Regions from separate parts of the Homo sapiens genome. Here region 2 is linked to region 1. Evidence: fine-mapped expression QTL. Tissue or cell type: tibial nerve. Region 1 holds a variant in brackets; the other region holds the start of a gene. All regions are shown on one strand. Distances are between the middles of the regions.

Region 1 (8,174 bases):
CCTCGCGCCGCGCGCTAATTGGGCCGCGGGCGCGAGGCTCTGTCAGCGCCAGTAAGGCCCTGCCCAGGGCGGCCTTGGCCGGGCGCCCGCCCGCTGGGCTACCTAAGGCGGGGGCAGGGTGGAGAGATGGAGGGGAATAGTGGGGCGGGGGGGGGTACGAAGGAGGGAGAGAGAGGAGGGAGGAGAGGAGGAGGAAGACGAGGAGGAGGACAGAAGAAGACACAGTGAGACAGGCCACGAGACAGCGTCAGCTTGAGACAGAGAAACACGAAGAGGGGCAGACAGAAAGGGACAGAGACATTCTCAGAGAGATAGCTTCAGAGACAAAGAGAAAGCCAGAAGCACTGAGCCATATTCAGATTCAGAAGGAGACAGAGAAGGTAGAGAGGGAGAGAGACCACAGAGATTTGGAGTAACAGAGGCAGGGCAGACTGACACGAGAACAGAATCAGGAGAGACCAAGACAACGAGAAGGAAACCAACGTGGACGCGGCCGGGAAGAACGCAGGCGGTGGGAGCACAGGAGACGCTCATGTTTACCACCGGGTCGCAGCTGCCTGATGGGTGTCTAACCCCTTTTGTTTTATAGTACCTCCTCCCTTTACATTCTCACTTTTTATCATTCTTCCTAGACCCGGGCGAAGCCGGGAACTGAGCCCACCCGCGCGGTGATCCATTCCTAGTCTGGCTGGGGGACTGCGTAGAGAAGGAACCTGAGCCGTCGAGATTTCACTCCTAAGCCTGGGCTTGGGGACAGGGGTTCGCCCTGGACACTGCGGGAGGGTGCGGGATGGGGCTCCGTGGGGATTTGCCTAGAGGCAGGGGATGCCCCAAATGACCCCTGTAGGGCCCGCCCCCAGGCAGCCACCTCGGCAGCACCCTCCTTTCCTATGCGCCCTGGGGCCTCTTCAGCTCTAGAGACAGGAGGATGACTCAACACAGGTTAGTCAAGACCCAGGGCAGGGAAGCCCACCGGGGACCACCCGGGGGAGCCCCCCAGCCTCGCGTTCTGCCCCCGCTGGGAGGCCCGGGCGCCCCGGGGGTGAGGGCGGAGGGCAGTGCGGCGGCCCGGCGGCTCTTGGCGGCCCCTCTCTGACAATCTTTCCTTTGTTTGTTTTCTTAAATCTGGGAGGCCCGAATTCCTGCCGGATTCCGTAGGTTTCACTCAGGAAGGAGGCGCCCCCACCCCCACCCCCTCTCACGTCGGACTCGGCTGCAGGGGGAATGGCAGGTTCTTCCCGGAGGCCAGCGGCGCGCAGCCCCACGGCCCGGGCAGGGCGAGCGGGTGCCCGGCGCGGCGGAGAGTCCCGGGCGCCCTTCCCGCGCGCGCCACCGCGCAGCCCCGCCGGAGGGCCGCGGGCAGCCTCGGCAGAGAAAATTACAAGAAAAAAAAAATCAAACCAGGAGCGCTTTAAAACACACAAAGAGTAGCCCTCCCTCCACCCAGCTTCATTCCACACCCCATCCACCTCTCACACTCCCCCACCCCTTTTTTATTTTGGTCTCCAAACTTGAGCCTCATTAATTTCCAAAAAAAATTTCCCCCAATAAAAGGCAAACATGGAAAGAAAAACAAACTATTAGAAAATAGAGGAGGGAGGAAATGTTATTTAAAAGGTTAGCAGACCGCATCATTTTCCAATGATATTATATACTCCCAGCAGTATCCAAAATATATATGGGCCCTGGGCCAAGAATGTAAAAAAACTTTTTTTTGAAAAAACCCTTACTTAGACACAACATCTGGACCGGAGAGCGAACAAACCCCCCATTTATCACACTTAATCCTCCAATGAAGCAATCGACAGTTGACTTCTGTTTTGCTAATTTAGTTGCTTTCAAGCGCCGGCCCAGTCCAGACCGGGAATTAAGTGTCACTTGCGGAGGGCCTGCCCTGCCCCCGGCCGTCTTCGCTCCCTCCCGCGCCCAGGCTCTCGGATAGGGAAAAAAGGCCATTAATGAAGAAAGAAACTTTTTACGAATTCCCTTTACCCCCGCCCACTCGGGTCAGTGAAAACCTCGACTGTGACCTAGCTCTGTCCCCCGCCCAGTACCCGACACCCACTTCCTTGGCAGCCACGCCCCCACCCGCCAGCTGCCTCCCCCCAAGACTCGGTGGAGCAAGGCCTCAGCAGGCACAAACTCTTGCAGCTCCAGGAGGTCACCCAGCTCACCGCCTTCTCCGCGGGTTGGCTAGGTGTTGTCATCCTCGTACCTGGCACTGCCTGGTGGCCTGGCAGCTTGACCCTTAGGCCTGGAGAAGGCAGGGGAGGGTCGTGGTGCTTGGCGGTAGGGAGCTTCCATTACCCTCGCCCCGGAAGTGGATGAGAGGCAGCAGCTCCTGAGGTGGAGGCCCTTGGCCAGCAGTGTCCAGAGACAATGGGATCTTGTGAGATTGCAAGCGGGAGAGAGAATAAATCAGGGAAAGTGTATCATTTGAGGATTAGTCAATAAATCCCTGGGACCCTGGCCCAGTGGGGCTGGTGCCAGAGGCAGGGCTGGCCCCAAGTGCAGACTTCCTTCCTCAGCAACCTTCCCTTCCCTTCCCAGAGGCCTCCTGGGTCTCTCTCTCCTCACCTCTCTCTGTCCATCTCCATGGCTCCTCTCCTAAACTTTGGAGCCCAAGGCATAGCCTTTTGTCCTTCCTCTCCCCCTTGCTGGAAAAAGTTCTACAACGGAGCAGAGAAGGTTTGAAGGTGTCCTCAGGCACCTGCAAACAGAAGAGGCTGGAGAATGTGTCCCAACTCCAGCCTGCCCGCTCCTGTTCACTCTGATCCAGCCCACCCCCCAGTCCGCAGCTTTGAGCCCTGGCAGAGTCCACAGGAACAGCCTGCACTCCTAAAAGAGGCCCCCAGTACCCTGAACCCCAGTCCTCTGCAGGCTCTCATGGTGGTCTGGCTGGGCCTCAAACTTCTTGGGATGGGGCCCTGAGTTCTGGCCGCAATCCAAATGCAGTCTCAAACCTCCTGAGTCCATCCTCTAGGCCCATGGAAGCCTCGTATCTGGAGCACCCTCCATACTCACTCCAAAGGGCACTTATGAGGGCATTTAGTATATTCCAGGCAGTGTGCTAGACTCAGGACATTTGGAGACTAATGAAACTCTCTTCCTGCCCCTCCCTTGGACCTAAGCCTCTACTGGGTTTTATTTTCTGTTCATATGGGGATACCATATTACCCAGCTATACTCCTTCCATAACCAGTTATTGAGCACCTGCCATATGCCAGACACTGTTCTAGGCACTGGGGGTTCAGAGCTGAGCAAAGGCCATTTCTGCCCTCCAACTTGCCAGGGAGACAGACATGCTGACAATTAATTCCAAGACTAGGCCAAAAATAAGGGGCCATGGGAGGCATTTATAAAAGCCTCAGAGGAGGGACTGACTCACCTTGGCTGGGATAGAAGGAGGGGTGTTGGCCGAGTGCAGTGGCTCATACCTGTAATCCCAACACTCTGGGAGGCCGAGGTGGGCAGATCACGAGGTCAGAAGTTCAAGACCAGCCTGGCCAAGATGGTGAAACCCCCATCTCTACTAAAAATACAAAAATTAGCCAGGTGTGGTGGCGGGTGCCTGTAATCCCAGCTACTCGGGAGGCTGAGGCAGAGAATTGCTTGAACCCAGGAGGAGGAGGTTGCAGTGAGCTGAGATTGCGCCACTGCACTCCAGCCTGGGTGACAGAGTGAGACTCTGTCTCAAAAAAAAAAAAAAAAAAGAGGGGGGCTGTGATGGATCACAGTGTGGTGGGGGTAACCTCATCACTGTAGCTCTTAAAGCCCATCCTGGGGGACCGTACAGCCTAATGGTTAAGAGCAAATGGTGTGGTTTAACTTCCTGCTCTGCCACATCAGTTGTAGGACCTAGGGCCTCTTAGTCTCTCTGAGCCTCAGTGTCAACATCTGAAAAAATGGGACTAACAGTAGGAACTGCCTTGTGAGTCTCTGACACAGTAACATGGGGCAAGCAGCTGGCATACAGCAACCTCTGACTGAATGTCCACTTAATTAGCCTTCTTTCAAAGTATTCGAATAAACTAGCTTGTAGCCTCCTTGCCACCCTCTTCTTGTCCTCCTCCTCAACTTGAGGGCCTGGCACAGTGCTAGGCACATAGAGTAAGTGGTGGAATAAATCAATGGGTACAATAGAAAGCCCATCAAACCTTGGCTCAAGTGCTGCTAGGTAGACAAGCAGTGGGCCTGAATGTTCCATTTCTTTGTTCTGATACCTGGCCATAGGCTGGGTGGGCCA[C/T]GATGGCTGTTCTTCTTGCTCCCACATTTCCAGAAGTCAGGCAGAGTATGACCCTCTGAAGCCCCCTTTTCTCTGCTCAGTAGAAAGTCAAGAAATGTCTTCTAGCCTGGAGCCATCATTCTGTGACTCTGGTTTGGGCTGAGTCTTGACTTGCTGTGTAACCCCGGGCAAGACATGTCCCTCTCTGGGCCTTGGACTCCTTATAGGTGAAATGAGTAGGTTGGACTGGATGCTTTCCATGCTCCTCTGCAGCCTTTGTGTTTGATGTCTGCTTCTTCTTTCAGCTGGGGGAACCTCATCGTCCTTGCCAGAGCCTGCTTACCTGGAGGTGTGGTTTTGTGCTCTCCCATTTCCCATCTGCTTCTTGGCTTTTCTTTTCTTTTCTTTTCTTTTCTTTTCTTTTTTTTTTTTTTTTTTTGAGATGGAGTCTCACTCTCACCCAGGCTGGAGTGCAGTTGAGCGATCTCAGCTCACTGCAACCTCCGCTTCCTGAGTTCAAGTGATTCTCCTGTGTCAGCCTCCCGAGTAGCTGGGATTACAGGCACATGCCACCACGCCCAGCTAATTTTTTGTATTTTTAGTAGAAATGAGGTTTCACCATGTTGGCCAGGCTGGTCTTGAACTGCTGACCTCCAGTGATCCGCCCACCTTGGCCTCCCAAAGTGCTGGGATTACAGGCTTGAGCCACCGTGCCTGGCCTTGCCTCTTGGCTTTTCACTGTGGTGTCCCTGTCTTTTTCCCTTCTTGCTCCCCTCAGCTATCTTCCTCTCTTTCTCTCTCTTATTCTGTCCCAGCGTGTGAATAGTATGTGGATGAACTGATGATGCTTAACTTTCTCCTGGGCAGCTTTCCCCTCCCACCTCTACCCGGCTTCTTGACCCCCAAACACAATCTGGGCCTGAGGAGCAGACCTCTCCATCTGTCCTCTTGCCTGGGCTTCTGTCCCTGAAGACCTTGGTGGTGCCCTGACCCTTGACTTCTGACTTCTGAGAGAATGGGAGAATGGCATCCCAGCTGGACCAAGACAGTGCCTAATATGGGTCTTCTGTCCCTAGAGATGGACAGGCTTTATATTCCCTCGCCGCCCTCCCCCCAAAGTCCCAGGCTCAGGGAAGGGGACAGGAAACTTTTTCTAAGTCTAGCTGACACTCAGCCCTGGAACCCACCTCCTTCACAATGCCATCGCCCACCTCTGAAGCTGGGAGAACCCCTTGACAGATGGGCCTGAGGTTATGATCGTCACTAAGGAACCACTTACTGTCAGGAACCATTTCCAGAGAACTACTGTGTGCCAGGTACTGTGCTATGAGCCAAGAGGAGGGGTCTGTGTTGGGGTAGAAGGGACTGGGGGTGGGACAAAAGCTGGGGGGAATCCCCAAGAAGGGCATCACTGCCAAGCCTAGGGCTCGTGGGCAGAGGGTTTGGCAATGCCTGTGCGTGGGCCCAGTTGGAGTGGCACCTGAGATGGAGCCAGGCCTTGGAGGCAGGTAAACAGGACGCTGTGTGCTGGGTGTGGTGAAGGGAAGGGGGATACAGGGGCACAATGGACCATTGTGTGCTCTGGAGTTGCCTTCACTTCTGGACTCTCTACAACCCTCCCACTAGGCTGTACAAATATTGAGACATATGGAAGATGTGGTCATAGATACCAAGACAAATGGAAGATGATAGTCATCTGCTTTTGGACTCTTCTGCTCTTGCCTAGACCACAGTGGACCAAGGGGTTGTGGTGTGTGCTGCGTGGCCCCGCAGGAGGGCAAAAGGAGGGAGCATTTGGCTGCTGGGATGTGGTTGACAGAGATCTAATCAAGTCTGGTGACGGGGCTGTGGCCTCAGCTGGGCCACTAGCTAGCTGTGTCTGTCTTTAGGAAAGTCACATTACTGCTCTAACCCTCAGTTTACTCATCTGTAAGATGGGATAAGGATTACCCTTGCTCTGTCTACCTCACAGTGATGTGTGGCATTGTGACAGAGCCTTGGTTGTTGTTAAGGGGTGTACACAGGGCAGAGCTGGTTGTTCTTGCTTCTGTTGTTACTCTGCTGCAAGATCCTTTTTGCCTGACAAACCTCCCCTCTGGGTTCAGATGTAGGCAGAATTGATGGGTACCCATGTGGGACTATTGAGAGACCTAAGGACAGGAATCAGGACTTAAATTCTCTAAGTGTTCAGCCAACCAATCTTCATTCATTCATCATTCATTCAGTCAACATACATTTTTTTTGAGCTGCCTCTCTTATGTCAAGCACTTTGATGCCCTGGGCCTTTGAAGATGAATAAAGTATGTTTCTTGTCCTCAGGGAACTCCCAATCAGCTGGGAAAGGGGCTGAACACACACACACACAGCATTAACATACAATAATAACGAGTATTTATTGAGCACTTACTATGTGCCAGGAATGGTTCTAAGTACTCTATATACATTAATTCATATAATCATTTTCATTTTGAAGATGAGGAAACCAAAGCACAGAGAAGGTAAGCAACTTGCCAAAAGTCTCACAGCTAGGAAGGAACAGAACCAGGATTGACCCCAGGCAGTCTGTCTAGAGCCTGTGTTCTTAGCCAGTAACTAGTACACACAACATGCATGAACCTACACTAACAAGGGCAAAAGAATAGTAAAGAGAAGAGTGGGCTGAGCCTCTGAAGAAATGGAAAAGGAGAGGAGGGATTGGCTATAGTCCAGCTTCCACTAGGGCAGGAGAAGGTGAAACAGGCTTGACTAAGCTGGACAGATTTGCGATGTCTCAGACAGGAGGTCCTGGGATGGGTTTCCAAGGCAGGAGGCTGAGTCAGGCTTCTTTGAAGGCGGCAGAGAGCTAGTTGGGATAGATTCCCTGCCAGCCCTCTGCTTGAGGTCCTTTCCAGCCCAAAGCTCTGTGAGGGAGAACTTTGGAAGGTTCCTGGTAGGAGAGTGTGACACCTTCTCCACATATAACTTGAGTTTCCCAATTCCAAACTCCATTGGGCCCTTGCTCCTTCTCTGGGCTGTAGTGTGCTGGGAGCTGGGAGTTATTAAGTAGGACTGAGTGTGCCAGGAGATATTGCTCAGGGAGCAAGTGATGGAAATTCACCTCCAACTAGTTTAAGCAAAAGGAAGGGATTTATTGGCTCAAATAACCAGGAAGGATAGGAGTGTGTGTGTGTGTGCGTGTGCATGCACGTGCATGCACATGCATTGGGGCAGGGGGCAAAGTTTAGGGACTGCCATGCCTCAAAAGATATGTTCAGCTTTCTCTCTTGCATTCTTTCTTGATCTCATTCATATGGTGGCTATGCTTTTTGGTGTGTGATAGCCTCATCTTTTTGTTTTGTTTTGTTTTTCCTGTTGCAATTGATCTTCCTCTCTAACTGCAGTTGGGGCGTGGAGAGGGAGAGGGAGGTCAAGACTTCTCTCATCTGCTGGAGGGCAGAGAGAGGTGGGTAGAAGAGCCTGGCAGCAATTTCATGCTCACATCTCAGAAGAAAGAGAGGATTTGCTATTCCCAGCACCCTCCATCTATAACATTTTAGCGAAGAGCTCCTTTTGGCCTAGATTGGGTCATGTGCCCACCTTTTGGACAAATCAGGTGTCCAAGAAAGTTATGTTTGACAATTGGCTAGACCTGGCTCATGGGCCCACCCTGAGGCCAGAGGAGCTGGGGAGTTGTAATTGGCAGCCCCACAGAATTGCATGGAAGAGAGGAGCAGGGGTTCAATGAAGAAAGGGTTGTAGTTATCAAAAGTAGACAAGGCTGTCCACAACAACACCCTCTCTCTCCCTCCCTGGCCCCTACCGCAGAGGACAGAGGAAGCAGTAGAATAAACTTAGCACACCTTCTTGGAGCTTCCATTTTATCTCAAGATTTTGGGGGAACATTTTAAAATGACATTTAAAACATTATTTTAATTTATAATACACATAGTTATACTATGGAGTAAAATTC
Region 2 (8,174 bases), 45 kb before region 1:
GCAAATTAATAATAAACGCCATCCCTTGATCAGTACTACCATGCACCCGGCACCGTGCAAGGTACTTGACATCTGCTCTCTCATCTAACTCCCAAACAGAATCTCTAAGGTGGGTATTATGACCTACTTTACAATGTAAGAAAATTGAGGTTCGAAGAGCTTAATTAAGTTCTCCAGAGTCCCATCTCTAATGCCAAGTTCCAAAGCCTTTTCCACTCTGACACATGTTCTGCCCTGGGGAGGCCTCAGTTCCTTGCTCTGGGTTCCAGAGTTCTGGAACCAAATCTGAGGAGGTCATTCCAGCCAACGGAGCCTGAGAGTCCTGTCAAAAATAGTACCTGCCCTGCCTTGGTCTAGGGAAGCTGGAGCGTGGTAAGATCTGTGAGAAGGGAAACTGTGAGGAGTTTCTTGGATGGAAGAAATTATTATTTCACACAGTTTAGGCTATTCAAAAAATAAAGACATTGTGCCTGCTTAGGATGGGACTGGGGGGCTTGCACTGTGGCTGGAGAGACAGGAAACCGCCAAGGCAGTGGGGTAGGAAGGGTTAAGATGCAGGGAAGGCTTCCTGGGGAGACAACCCTTCCCTCCCCTTGCACCTCACAACTCTCCTCTGAAACAGACACCCTGTTCCCATTCTTCTCCCCTCCACCCTCCCCCCCACCATGTGATATCTGTCTCTCCTACCCCAACAATCTGAGGTCCAGACAGCAGACCCCAGCCTTCACTGCTTGGGTACCCCAGTACTCAGCCTGGGACCTGCCCAGGCAGAGTAGGGGCTCAGCAAACATTTGGGGGAATTACTGGATCAAAAGCAAGCCTTCCTCTCCCAGTCCCTCTGCTTCCCTCCCACCAAGGAAGAGGTATGTTTGGGGTAGGGGCCCAGCAGGATATGCACATTCCTGGCAAGAAGGGACCTACCTGCCTACAGCCAGAACGGAAGTTTTCGGCTCTAAAGGCAGAGGAAGGGGGCTGGGGGCGTCTAGGTGTGAGGAAGATCCCTACACAGAAAGGGACAGGAGCAGGTCCCTTTGCAAGTGGGACCCTTTGCAAATGCTCTGGCCCTGGCGTTCTCCAGCACTGGGGTCAGGTCTTTCTCTCTCCAGGGCTCAGGGGTTCCCCAACTCCGTAACTCCTGGGAAACCTGTCCAGGACAGGGAGAAGGACAGAAAACTCCACCCAGGCGCCCAGCCCTTGGTGCCAGGAGAGAAGGCTCCCATGGTCTCCCAAACTTAGTAGCAAGGCTGGAGCCAGGATAAAGTGGGTCCTGAGGGTCCCGTCCCGCAGGAGAGATTCAGCGCTCACCCTGGCCCTGGGTGTGGAGGCTGAGAGGGGGCAACCACAAAACCACCTCTTCCCCTTGCCACCTTGCCCCACTGACTAGAGTGTGAGTGACTCCCCCAACTCACAGTTTTTTGAGTTTCAGATCGAAAGGGCACCATGGGAGCCAACAAGCTGTCCAGGTACCAAGAGCAGAGCCCCAGTATCCTCCCTCCAGCCACCAGGTAACAGAGCCCCAAAACCCCGAGGCAAAAGTTTCTCAAGTTGAAAAAAAAAAAAAAAAAAAAAGGCCTTCAGACTTCCCCACAGCGGTTTTCCGCGGGGGCGGGCAGAGGTTTTCTGAGGCCGTGGCTCCCCTTCAGGCGGCTGGGTCCACTGGGCCTGGCCTTCGGCCCCTGCACCTACCGGCTGGTTCGCAGCAGGGGGAGGGGGTGGGGGAGAGCTCAAAATGCCCGGTGCCCGCAGGGCATGGCGGTCAGGGGGCCCTTCAGCCCTGGTTTTCTGTGGAAAGTGAGCTTCTGGGTTCGACAGTGGGACCGGCACAGACCTTCCCGCAGCTACAGGCCATACGACAACCCCGCTGCTCTTTCTTTCTGCGGGCACTCGGGCCAGTCCTAACAATTGCCCCTCAAGCTGTGTGTGCTGCCCTAACCCTCAATCCCGAACCCGAAACAGTGCGTGCTGGGACGAATCTAGGCAGGTCTCCGAAACCGGGGTGAAGATGCTGAAGTTCAGGTAAAAACCCGCATTGGCCAAAATGCTCCCGGGCTTTCTCGGGAGTCACCCGAATGGCAACTTCAGGCTCGGGTTTGGTTCTCCGGACTCCCCACCCCTATTCCCGGCTCCAGGCGCCGCGGTCAACCTGCGGGGAGACTAGACGTTGGGGTGCCAGACACGCGGTGATCTCCAGACGCCCGAAACGCCAGGCGCCGAGTGAGCGAGGAAACCAGCCGGGAGGGGGCTGGCCAGGGAAGCCGGGGAGCAAAGGAAAGAGCGGGGCGCGCTCTGGGCTCAGGGTTCCCATACCCTTTCCCCCCAACCTAGGATCGGGGTGGGACGCAGGTGTGTTCACGAGATCGCCCCAGTTGGGGGACACAGGGAATCCGCCGCCGTCTGGGCCTGTCTCAAAATCCGCATTCCGCGAAATTACCCGGTCCTTTATGGGGGCGGCCGGGACCCCAGGTCGCATTCTAGCGCCACTGGCTGTGCTCTGACGCAGCCCAAGGAAGTTTGTTTGGCGTGGATGAGGAGCCCGAGGCTGAAGCGCCGCCGGTCAGAGAGGTGCTGGGGTTGTCCAGGGGAGATACCAGACTCCTCAGTTGGGGCGGGGGGGGGTCCTGCTCGGTCACTCCGGGCTCCTTCCCTGGTGGCCTCCGGGCCCCCGTGGCCGCCCTCTCTTCCCCCCTTAAGTGGTGAAGCGGGAGCTCTCTCCACAGCGGGTGAGTAGAGGTGTCAGCCAGATCGTTTCCCCACCCTCCACCTCCGGCGCACAAATCACAGGGGCCATTTCCAGACGCTCTCAAGTCCCCAAGAAGTTTTCCGCTCTATCCCCGAGCTGACCGAGCGATGGAAAAGGGGCTGACTGGCCCTGGCACTTCCGAGGTGCGACCTCAGCAAGACAAGTCCCCTCTTCACCAGAGACGACACGGCGGGTAGGACCGCGATCCCCCGCTCTCTTGCCCCCATTTTCATCTGTCTCCGGCGCGTCCTGGGGAGTCCGGTACCGACTAGAGTTGGGGGGAGCCACTTCCCTTCCCAGCTCTGGAAAGTCTGGGCCGGGAAGTATTCTTTGTCTGACTCGGGGCGGGGAGGGGGTCGCGCCCCCGTACACCCCATTCCCAGAGGCCCGGCGGGGAGGGGGCGGGGCCCAGATTCTTGGGGAAGGGCGGGCCTCGGTGGCCTCTCCGGCCGCCCCCCTCCCCGCCCCGGCCTCCGGCTGCCCCCACTCCCGCCGCGCCACAGCCCCCACCTGTTCCCGAGGCAGCTCCGGCCCGCTGGGGCCCGGGCCAGGGGCGGAATGTCGCGGCTGCGCGGGGTCAGTGCGCCACGGCCGGCCCTGGCTGGAACAAAGTGCGCCGGCCCGGGCCCGGCTCCTCCTGGCGCCCGGCGCCCAGCGCGTCTCGGGCGGGCAGTTTGCAAACACAAAGTGAGCCAGCGAGCGGGCGAGAGAGTGCGCGAGCGAGGGAGTTGGTCTGGTCGCCCGCCCAGCCCCCACCCACGTCCCTGGGCCCGACCCGCCACCTACCTGTCCCGCCCGGCCGCTCCGTGCGGGCTCCGGCCCGTCAGCCCGCGCGGGGCATGGGGCTCGCTCCGGTCGCAGCCCGGGCCCGCCGCCGCCCGCCGGGGCTGCCCTTCCGCGCCGCCCCGCGTCGCGCAGCTCCCGGGCGTCCTCCCAGCGCGCCGGGCCGACCGCCGCGCGCCTCAACCCCGCCGGGGCATGGCACTTTGTGGGCTGCTTGGCTCGCTCCGGCTCCGCTCTTCCTTCCCGGTCCTTCCGCGACGCTCGTCAGCTCGCTCCGGCTCCCGGGCTCCCGGACCCCGGCGTCCCCGCCCCCGGCCCAGCCCTGGTTCCGGCCCGGGCTCCTCCCCGCCGCGCCGCCGCCGCCTGCGCCGCGCCCTCCTCGCGGGCTGGGGGCTCCGTCCCGGCCGCCGGCCGCCGGCCGCACTGTCCGGTCCGCAGGGACGGCGGGCTCCGGACTCCGAGGGGCTGCGACTGAGCCTGGGCTGCGAGTGGCTGCGAGCGGGCGGCGCGCGGGCGGGGCGGGAGGGGGCGGGGGAGGAGGAGGGTGGAGAGGGAAGGAGGGAGCGCGCGGAGAGCGAGGGAGGAGGGAGCGAGAGAGCAAGCGGCGGAGGGAGGGGAGACCAACTTCTAGTGCTACCATAATTCGCCTAAAGCAGGTGCAGCAACTTTCACCCCGCCTGGCAGCCCGCTGAGAGCGAGAGAAAACCACGTGCACCAAACTTTAGGGGAGGAAAAATGGGAACGTGGGGAGAAGACGTGAGGCGGCAGATCTGAAAAAGATGGTAGGTGGAGGGACCCCAGGGATTCACCCTGGCCTCGGACTAATCCTATGGGGCGCTTGCAAACCCCGGCCATCCCCTGGAGTCTGAAGGTACGGCCAAGTCCTGATCCCACACGGTTCACTGGTTCCCGGCGGGCTGCGCTCGGCGCGGGGAGTGGCCGGGGGCCCAGAGACGGAGCCAGTGTCAGGCCCGGGCCCTGTCTGGCCTCCCTCCTGCTCCCCACTGCGTGGGGGCTGGGGGTGGGCTTCCTGAGCCGAGGGTAGAAGGTGGGGAGGCCCCTTCAGGGCTTTGTGAACGGTCACCCCCTGGCGCGCACTGCCTCCCTCTGCGGAAAGGGAATTTCCCGTAAAGTGCTCTGCGAACCAGTGAAGAAGGGGCCCAAGGCCAGAGCCATGCGGGCAAAGTGAAGTGCAAAGTTGAGGCAATTATCCGGACAAATTAGATTGTAAACAAAACCCCGCGTCTCTGAACATCGCTTTTGCCCAGGGGGACTGGAGGGATTGTGGTGGTGGCGGCGATGGTGTGTTTGGGTTGGGAGGGGGAGGTCTGGGTGAGGAAATGCCCACGGCCCAAGGGGGAGGGCTGTGTTGTTAGCAGACGCACCACTCAGAGTCCCGTGGAAATCTCAATACCCGTCCCCCTCCCCGCCCCACACACGCCGGAAACATCTCCCATCTGTCTGCATGTGTTGGGGGTGGGGAGAAGTGAAGGAGGCCTCAGGGGTCCTCATGAAGTACCCCAACCCAGCTCAGTGATGCCGGGTCCCCATGACCAAGGGAGGATCCTGTTGTGGGATCAGGACAAGAAGACAGTGGCTCTTGAAGCCTCTCCTGGCCCTAAATCCTCAGGCAGGTGGACAAGAGGCTGGCATAGTATGTGAGCCCCTGTGGAGTGGGAGCTGGAAGCCTGAGGTGTGGGGTCGGAGCTGCAAGGATTGATGCTTAGTTGCCTGGGGGGAGGGGATTTCTTGGCCGTTCCAGTGGTCCTTGAAAGAAAAGGGGACCTCAGAGAGGAGGCACCCTCTTGGGTTGTTTTTCATCACTTCTGTCCCTTTTCTGCAATGTTAGTGACACCTGCACAGGTCCACATTTTATGTATTTGCCTTTTTGGGCAGGTGGGACAGGCATACTTAGGTCCTGCTGGAGCGTTTTAGATTTCTAGGTGTGAAATTGTGCAGGGAAGACTCTAAGTGCCATTTATGTGGATATCTCAGTGTCCTTTCCAGTGTGGCAACTGAGATAACCATAGCCATAAGAATAAAATAACAGCTAACATCTGAGTCGTACCACCCACCAGCCATTTAATCTTCACAGTAACCCCAGGAGGGAGATATTTGTATTATCTCCATTTTATAGAAGAGGAAACTGAGGCACAAAGAGATCAAGTAACTTGCCCAGGCTTACACAGCTGCTGGTCAGTGATGAGCCAGATTCCAACTAGAGCCACTTCAGTGAGGACAAGAAAGAAGCTCATGGTGGTCTCTGAAGCGACACTGCCTGCTTGTGGGTTAGCTGAGGGGAAGGATATTCTGGGAGAAAGAAAGCCCTTGGTAGTACTATCTGATTTACCTTCTGTTGAGGCCCAGCTCTGGTGGAAATCATGGTGTGTGGACAGCCCTAGGCCAAGCCTGGAGTGGCAAGTCCTTGTGTCAGACCAGCTGGGCCAGTGACTATGTCCTCAGTTCTCCTTCCTATCCTTCTTGCAGCAAAGGCTGAGGGTGGGGTGAGAACTAGGGGCTTTGGAGACAAAAGAGAGAATTTCTGTAGGGGGGTATTGAATGAGGTGACCTCCGAGGGGCTTCTCCAGCCCTTTTCTGGCTGGTTCACTGAATGTTTTTCCCATCCCCTTCCTGCAGCAGCCCTTGTACCTTACACATGGGCTCACTTGCCCAGAGGGATTGCCCTGGGAAATGCTTCACTTTCAGTTCAGTTTACCCCTCATCTCCAGGCCAGTTCAGTTCCCAGCTCCCTGTGAGCTACAGTGGGGGCTCAAGGCATCAAAAGACCCTGTCTTGTCTTCACCTAAAGGGCATTTTAGCGAGGAAGACAAAGCCTCCCCAAAGAAAGATACAGAACAAATGCCCCGAAATCAAAGAAGCCAGTCCAAAGCCCTTCTTCCTGGTGCAAGAGCTTCGTTAAGAAGGTTGAAAAGAGTAGCCCTTGGCTCCAAAGTGGGAGTGACCGGGAGCAGGCAGGAGGGTCCTCTTTCTGTCCTTGTTCCTTCACAGGACTCAGGGCAGGTGCAGGTGCTTTGGCGGTGGCCGGAACCAAGGCTCATGGCTTGGCCCCTCCAGGGGGGCCATAGTTAAGAGCACAGGGGCTAGAGTCAGGCAGCCTTGGGTTGAACTTCAGCGTCTGTCACTTAACCAGTGTGTGACCCAGGCAAGTTACATGATGTTTGAGTCTCAGTTAACTCACTCATCACCTCACTCATCAATTGGGAGGTTGGGAGGCCTCCTTGGGTGTTTGGGAGGGAGGATGGGCAAAACTTCTAGCCTGGTAATGTGTTCCTCACATGCTTTCCATAATTACTTATTTTCCCCTTGATGAGCTCCAGGGTCCTCACTTAAAATGACGAATGCTGACCTCACAAAACTGCAAATCATGAGTTGCCACTTATTAAATGCTTGCCAGGCAGTCGAATAACGTGCTGTTCAGCTTATCACCCCAGCAATGGTGACTCTTCTGCAGGTGAAGCTAAGAGAGGTCAAATGACTTGCTCAGTTCACATAGCTAGGAAGTAGTGTGGCGAGGACTTGCTCCCAGGTCTCCTGCTTTGAAGCAGACGCCCTTTCCCAAGGTCAGCCGCCACCCTATTGTGGAGGTGAAGTGGGCTGATGGATGAGCTTGTTCCTAGCAGCAGGCCTGATACTCAGGAGTAGGTTGGGGTGGTAGTGGTGTGTACATCTAGAAACATTTGCTTCATTCCCATGGTCCCAACAAACCTAAGCCCAGACAGTTTATGTTTCTATTATTATTATTATTATTGAGACAGAGTCTCACTCTGTTGTCCAGGCTGGAGTGCAATGGCACAATCTCAGCTCACTGCAACCTCCGCCTTCTGAGTTGAAGCAATTCTCCTGCCTCAGCCTCCCGAGTAGCTGGGACTACAGGCTCATGCCACCATGCCCTGCTAATTTTTGTATTTTTAGTAGAGATGGGGTTTTGCCATATTGGCCAGGCTGGTCTCGAACTCCTGACCTCAAGTGATCTGCCCGCCTTGGCCTCCCAAAGTACTGGGATTACAGGCATGAGCCACTACACCTGGCCAAAAACTATTTTTTAGTTATTGAGGAATAAAACTTCATCAGCATAGGCCAGGTGTGGTGGCTCACGCCTGTAATCCCAGCACTTTGGGAGGCCGAGGCAGGTGGGTGGATTACCTGAGGTTGGGAGTTTGAGACCAGCCTGACCAACATGGAGAAACCCCATCTCTACTAAAAATACAAAATTAGCCAGGTGTGGTGGCACATGCCTGTAATCCCAGCTACTCAGGAGGCTGAGGCAGGAGAATCGCTTGAACATGGGAGGTGGAGCTTGCAGTGAGCTGAGATCGTGCCATTGCACTCTAGCCTGGGCAACAAGAGCGAAACTCTGTCTCAAAAAACAAAAAACAAAAATAAAACCCACTTTATCAGCATAATACAGTAACTCCACTCCACTCCACTCCTAAGTATATGCCAATAAAAATGCATATGTACATATGTTCACCAAAAGGCATACACCAGAATGCTAGGCCATCTACTCGCATGTGCTCACTATTCACAACAGCTGTCAACAATGGAATAGGTGACTAAACCACGGTCTTCTCATCCGTGGGCTAGTCCTTGGCAATGAGAATGAGCAAACCATTGCCACGAGCAACAACAT

Evidence for each region. PIP is the estimated chance that this variant, and not a neighbour inherited with it, causes the effect.
Region 2: it holds the start of FOXP4, and the variant in region 1 is fine-mapped to the expression of FOXP4 in tibial nerve (GTEx, PIP 0.91).

What each region holds. Positions count from the first base shown.
Region 1 is chr6:41,497,015-41,505,188 of GRCh38, reverse strand. It overlaps LINC01276 (long intergenic non-protein coding RNA 1276), which reads right to left and starts at 2,745. Exons shown (of 3, transcript NR_120347.1): 1 at 2,578-2,745; 2 at 2,216-2,386. It overlaps LOC112267957 (a long non-coding RNA gene), which reads left to right and starts at 188. Exons shown (of 3, transcript XR_002956346.2): 1 at 188-942. RefSeq lists a silencer at 1-61 and enhancers at 242-341, 1,045-1,792, 1,793-2,540. The variant C/T (reference allele first, on the strand shown) is at 4,247.
Region 2 is chr6:41,542,220-41,550,393 of GRCh38, reverse strand. FOXP4 (forkhead box P4) reads right to left here and starts at 4,013. Exons shown (of 17, transcript NM_001012426.2): 1 at 3,527-4,013. FOXP4-AS1 (FOXP4 antisense RNA 1) reads left to right here and starts at 1,773. Exons shown (of 2, transcript NR_126415.1): 1 at 1,773-2,016. RefSeq lists silencers at 2,697-2,846, 3,137-3,316, 3,387-4,066, 4,397-4,666, 5,709-6,003 and an enhancer at 4,217-4,326.